Linked DNA regions of Homo sapiens. The protein of the gene in region 1 interacts with the protein of each later gene in a pairwise test. Each region holds a gene or a part of one and is shown on either strand. Other genes may lie near its edges.

Region 1 (2,783 bases):
AGACTTTAGTATCATTCCAAAGAATATAGAGATATTTATATACATATTTCTTTTAAAATAATATTTAAAAGTTTTACTACAGAAAATCTGGCTTCAACATGGAAGCATTTTTCCTTTTCAAGATTATACACCTGCATGAAAGTAGGTGATTTCCTTTACATTTAGTTTTTCACAATAGCAAAATAAACTTTTTATACATTGCATTTAAATTGACAAAGAAAGTTAAGATGTAAAGCTCCATGTAACTTTTTGTATTGCGAACTGTTCTCTTTAAACATACTCCAGATACACTGCTGATTATCTAATACAGTACAACTTGATAAACTTAATTAGAAGTGTTATGCTGAACAATTTGTTAAATCAAATGTATGTTAAAACAGTAAGTAGAGTTAACTATTATGATTAAAAGGGAATTTTAATGTATCATTAAAATATACATCAATTTTCTTGCTATTACTTGTTTCTATAACGCATTTCTTTCTAAAGCTAAAATCACATGCATAAAAAATAAGTGATACCTTCAAACTCATTCAACAGTTTGCTACCTTATGTAGTATGTAAATAAAGTCCTTTATTTAATTTCGTACACATTATCTTAAGCATTATTTTATTTTTCTTGAAGGAATTCATCTTTCAAGGTCAAAATTAGTATGTGTTTACACACGAGTATATTTTTTAATGCTATTACTACCTGCAAATACATTCTTCCATAATAATGCACTTTCAGTTTTCACTGGAAAGATAGCACAAGCCTTTTAAAAGTCCTATGAATAAAATTTATAAAGGGAGGAGAACACAAGTATGGTGAATCCTTCCCAACTCCCACTTCCATCAAATCTCAAGAAATCCTCCTGCTTCAAAACATAAACAATCTCACAAGATTTTTATTTGATCATAATGTGGAAAAGAAAACTGTATTCCTATTCTTTTTGATACTAACAGTTTTACGGAATTTGTTTTCACTTTCTGTCAAAAAACACGTATGTTGCTGATATGGATTCTCAAACCCATTTAGATCGAATAGGGTCATTAGAATAATATAGCCTTCTGATTTTAAAAGCAACTGATTACTTATAGAAAAATGATATGCATCAGACGTTTAATCAGAAAAAGAAAAATGAGAACATCTCTTTCATGTTTGATATCATTTAACTTACAGAATGATGTGAAAATACGCTGGTTATAATTTTAAACAAAACTAAAACCCACTTCAACTAATGAAAAAAACAAAAAATGAAGAATCAAATATCTACCAACTTTGCTAGTATTACTGTCCAAATAAATGTCTTCCATTGCACTGAACATTAGAATTAGAAATTCACTATATGTTAAGGCATATTATTTTAATTAATATGTTCCAGAATTGCACAGTTATACTGGTCAGTGTTCCTATTTCCCCACTCTTGTCCTCAGCACACCCCTTTCTTCTAGGGCTCAAAATATTAAGTCATGGTTTTGGTGGCTACTGTAGATTTGAGCTGGCATAACACAGTGTGTTCACTAAGTTTTATGAGCATAAACATTAAAATGTTACATAAAATATACCATAATTTACTTCACACTCCGATCTAAGATGGTTTAATGTCTTGACAAAAAGTGAGATGACTTATACATTTTACATTTTGTACATTTAGATCACCATATGTATAGATGTTCTAATGCTGAATCCTTGGTCTTCAGTATCTCATAGTGCTGGATGCTCGGAAGTATGACAAAAACTTGTAACACAGACTAACCACAAAGTACCAGATATTTCTTGCCATTTGTGATCTTGCAATAAAAATGCGCCAGATGAGGATCACAAGGATAGTATTAAAACCATAACGTATATTCCGCAACCTGGAAAGCAAATCAAGAGATATGTTAGACAGTATTTTCTAGAAAAAAATATTGTTAGATGGCAGCTAATTAATACTGAGTTTTTAATCAAAGCTCAAATCCATATTAATTTGAAACTTATGATAGGCATTAAGTATACTGTAGGTAAAACAGATATGTACCTTGAATTTCTAGAGCTTCCCATCTAATCTAAAAAGGTTCATTCATTACATACATCACAGTACAGACAAAATAGAGCAAACTTTTTTTTTGACATCTTTAGTTGCTTACAAGTTGTCAGACAAGTAACTTACTCTTTCAGTTACAGGTGACAGTCACAAGATCAAAGGCCAAGTGGATAAGCCCTTATCCAAGCATAAAACATGGCATTAACTTGATAAAGGAGGATCCTCCCTTTTCTCAAAGAGTAACAATATGTTACTCTCATGTTTCAGCTCATGTTTCAAAAAATTTTGATGTTTCTGATGGTGTTTGAAAGAAATACAAACCTTTAGAGATGTAATAATGTTACATAAATTATACTGACCTCAGCAGGCAGTGCAAGATAGGACGGCAATGTAAGAAAAATGATGTAGAGAAAAGAGGTTCGAATATGGAGTCAAAGATCAATATTCTAGTTTGCTTTGCCACTCAATACAATATGGCTTAGGCAAATATAACTTTCCTAAGCCTCAATTTCCTCATCTATAGAACTGGCTGCCCTGCAAAGTCGCACAGAGTTATGAGGCATGAGAGGGATAATAATGTGAAAGTCTTAAAAAGTGTCATAAAAATCACATTAAAAAGCACTACAAATATAAGAGATTACCATTAAAAATTATCTGCATCTTTGAATGACAGATATAGCAAATATACCAGTTTACCAAAAAAATTGTGGAATATTTCATAAGGAAGACAAGAAGCAATCAAATCCATGCATCAAACTCACTTGTTCAGATGTTTTC
Region 2 (3,694 bases), on another chromosome or scaffold:
GCAGCCCTCCTGGATCATGAGGTGACTTTGGGAACGGAGGCCAAACACAGCAGAGTGACCTGGTAGAAAATCCTCGAGCCCTGGGGCCTTCACAGAGCAGGGCCAGCCCTGGCAACCGTGGCCTGGCTCTCTTGGGACCTAACAGCTCAGTAGGATAAACTCACAGATGATCTTAGCCACTATTGCGGGGAGGCCCGTTCTGTTCCTCGCAGCTCAACTCCATCCTAATGGCTCATGCTGGCCGGCCACAGGCCCTGGGCATTCAGGCTGCCACAGAGGCGGGAGGGGCCACGTGCTCCCAGGCTGAGGGCAGCAGGAGCAAGAGGCAGGGCCGGGCCAGGGGCTGCTCCACTGCCATTGCCACCTGTGTCCCCGCTTCCTCCACAGGCAGGTGACAACACCCCGGCCATTTCCTGCAGGAGCCACTTCTTCTCATGTTGCCACCGAGGGAGGGCTTGGTGCCCGTGCCCTTGAACCGTGAAGGGGAGCCCCAGCAAGGCGAGGTCCTTGCCCAGGGCCATCTCGCACCCAGCAGTGCAGGCTGGAAGCAGAACCCAGAGGCTCAGAATTCAAAGACAGAACTGAACACTCCATCTACTGTGTCCCTGTAGCTGCAGCCCCCTCTCCTCCTCCGCTCTTCCGGCCCGACAGACACTGTGGACAAGCAGTATTCCTTGATAAGCCCAGGACAAGACAACAGCTCAGTCTGGCCTCCTTTTCAGTGAACTCATCTCTGAATCCACCTGACTCTGCTGGCCCCAGCCCCCTCCAAGCGTCTGCACAAACCTCTTGACAGTAGCCATCACTGCACACATGTGCCTGCCCCTCCCAGGCTGCCCCTGCCCACCACCCCATGGTCCTTCCAAGAGCGTCTGATCCTGCTCAGGGAAAGCCTAGGCTCCCGCCTGGTCCCGAGGGCCCTCTGTGAGCCAGCCTCTCGCACCACCAAGCCTTCGGAACGCACTCCGCCCTGCTGCCCCTGGCTTCCGGACGGGGTAACCACTCAGCATTCTGCAGGGCTCAGCTCAGACCTCTTTTCTCTGGGAGAGGGTATCCTGGGTCCCCCAGTGAGGTGCACATCCCTGCTAGGTGCCCCCTTCCCTAGAGCACCTGGGGCCATCTGTGTGGTGTTGGTCCTCCCTGGTAGCAGCCTCTGCCCCGCCCCGTGGCACCTGGCACTTTAGACTCTGGATGTTGAGGTAATCTTCACTCCCTGGAGGCCAAGGGAGAGGCCAGGGTGGGACAAAGGGTGGCTGCCAGCCCCAGGCCTCCTACCTCCCTCCCGCTGCAGGATGTGGTGCAGGTGCACGACGTCCAGGATGGCTTCCAGGTCCTGCTCCGAGTAGCCCTTCCTTTGCATGTCCTCCACTGAGTCCGGGTAGATCACCTGGTCACGCAGGGAGCCCACAGACATGTAGGGCCTGTGGGAAAGCTGGGTGTCCACGGAGGGAAGGGCCGGCTCTGCCTCCCCCAAGATACTCTGCGCCTCCCAGGCAGTGTCCACATGCCACGCTCACACGCATCCACACGCTCACATCGCCGCCCGTGCACACACCCCACACAGATCCAAAACAGGGCAGTGGATCGGGCGGGTTTGGAGGGAGCAGGAACCACAGCCCGTCTCTGGCTCTGGGGACAGTGCCTCAGTGTCCTCTCCTGAGGTGCTGACTCTTCACCACTTCCTGGGCCTCTGCAGGAAGCCATGTGTGAGCGCACAGGCAGGAAGAGGTGGAGGAGAGGCGCACGGGCTTCCTTACCTCTGCGGGATGTAGAACATGCGCTGGGGTGGGGGCTTGTAGAGCACACCACCGTACGTGGGCCAGAGCCCACCCAGGATCCGGAACAGGGAGCTCTTGCCGCAGCCATTGGGGCCTGTGATGAGCAGATGCATGCCTTCCTCCACCTGCAGGGGCAACAGCCGCTGACGCCAGAGAGCGCAGGCCCCTTCCCGTACCCTATGGCCTCCTGACCAGCCTTGAGAGGCTCCCAATGCCCGAGGCCAGCACGCAGGCCATTCTTGATCTCTTGATAAGGGACAGCAGGGCCTGGGGGATGGGGTCCAGCGTCCACAGCCCTAGCTAAATTTGGCTCTCGCTAAATGCCTGGCCCAGGACACAGGAATGGACAAGCCCCGGCCCAGTCCTCAGGCCCTGACACGCCTGGAGAACATGGTGCCAGCACAAGAGGAAGGGCCTATTCTGCCACAGCTGAATGAGTAGGTGTGTTCCAACACAGCCAGCGCCGTCCTCAGTCCCATCCGACTCCCACTTCACCAGGAATCCAAGTGCAGGGTCAACTGTCAGCCCCCTTTAAGGAACTGCCCTGAAAGGCACTTTGTTTTCAAGAGACGAGACCTCACTCTGTTGCCCAGGCTGGAGTGCAGCGGTATGATCACAGCTCACCGCAGTCTCCAACTCCTGGGCTCAAGTGATCCTCCCACCTCAGCCTCCTGAGTAGCTGGGCCTACAGATGCACGCCACCATGCCTGGCTAATTTTTAAATGTTGTTTTAGAGACAGGGTCTTGCTATGTTACTCAGGCTGGTCTCAAACTCTTGGCCTCAAGCGACTCTCTCACCTTGGCCTCCTGAGTCACTGGGGACAAAAGGCAGTTTCTTTCTTTTCTTTTTGAGACGGGGCCTTGCTCTGTTGCCCAGGCTGGAGTGCAGTGGTGGGATCATGGCTCACTGCAGGCTCAACCTCCTGGGCTCAAGAGACCCTCTCACTTTAGCCTTTTTTTTCAAGTGGCTAGAACTACAGGCACCGCCACCACACTTGGCTTATTTGTGTATTTTTAAAAATTTCTGTAGAGACGGGGTTTGCCATGTTGCCCAGGCTGGTCTTGAACTCCTGGGCTTAAGCGATCTGCCCACCTCGGCCTCCCAAAGTGCTGGGATGACAGGCATGAGCGACCACGCCCGGCCCAAAAAGCACTTTCTTTATGTCTCTAGACTGACAGTACAGACCCCACTGCCTCCCCAGGTGCCAGAGTGGCCCAGAGATGCCACAGTGGCCCCTGGGCTCTGCATCATGGACCTCAGGCTCCTCAATTCACTGACTCCATGGTCCTCGCTGGAGCTAGGAAATGCCTACTTTGGGAAAATGCCGGCCAGGCTGGAGGCGGGCTGTGTGCAGGGAGGAGGCCAGGGGCCTGGAGTCAGTGAAGTTCACGGTAACAACAACAATGCTACACGGGGCTCCTGGGAAGACTTGAGGCCGTGGTCTTTAGCTTACCTCAGGCAGTGTCATGGGTGGAACTCTGTCCTCTGAAATTCCTATGTGGGAACCCTAATCCCCACTACCTCGGAGTGTGAGCTTATTTGGAAACAGGGTCATTGCGGACGTGATGAGTTAGGTCTGCATGAGGTCATTCTGCAGAGGGGTGGGCCCTAATGCAGTGTGACCTGTGTCCTGACAGAAAGGGGAGACGGAGACACGGACACACCCAGAGGGAGAGCGCCGTGTGGAGACAGAGGCTGAGGCCGACCTGCCGTGGCAGAAGCCAGGGAAGCCCGCAGATGGGCAGCAGAGCAGAAGCTGGGACAGAGGCCCCGAGCGGAGGCACCTTCTCGGTCCTTGGCAGAAGCCCGCCCTGCCTGCGCCTTCCTCTCGGACTGCTATTCCCCGAGCCGGGAGAGAGGCCATCTCTGCTGGGAAAGCCACTCAAAGTTTGTAACGCTTTGTGACCGCAGCCAC

Evidence for each region. The genes of interacting proteins can lie anywhere in the genome.
Region 2: the proteins of FAR1 (region 1) and ABCD1 come close enough for resonance energy transfer, tested with the Homo sapiens proteins (one large-scale study listed by BioGRID).

Annotation. Positions count from the first base shown.
Region 1 is NC_000011.10:13,727,668-13,730,450, reverse strand, and holds part of FAR1 (fatty acyl-CoA reductase 1), read right to left. Parts: coding exon 2,768-2,783; intron 1,840-2,767; coding exon 1,677-1,839; 3' UTR 1-1,676. UniProt on the Homo sapiens protein: Catalyzes the reduction of saturated and unsaturated C16 or C18 fatty acyl-CoA to fatty alcohols. It plays an essential role in the production of ether lipids/plasmalogens which synthesis requires fatty alcohols.
Region 2 is NC_000023.11:153,738,301-153,741,994, reverse strand, and holds part of ABCD1 (ATP-binding cassette sub-family D member 1), read right to left. Parts: exon of another isoform or gene 3,417-3,694; intron 1,904-3,416; coding exon 1,758-1,903; intron 1,422-1,757; coding exon 1,276-1,421; intron 1-1,275. UniProt on the Homo sapiens protein: ATP-dependent transporter of the ATP-binding cassette (ABC) family involved in the transport of very long chain fatty acid (VLCFA)-CoA from the cytosol to the peroxisome lumen.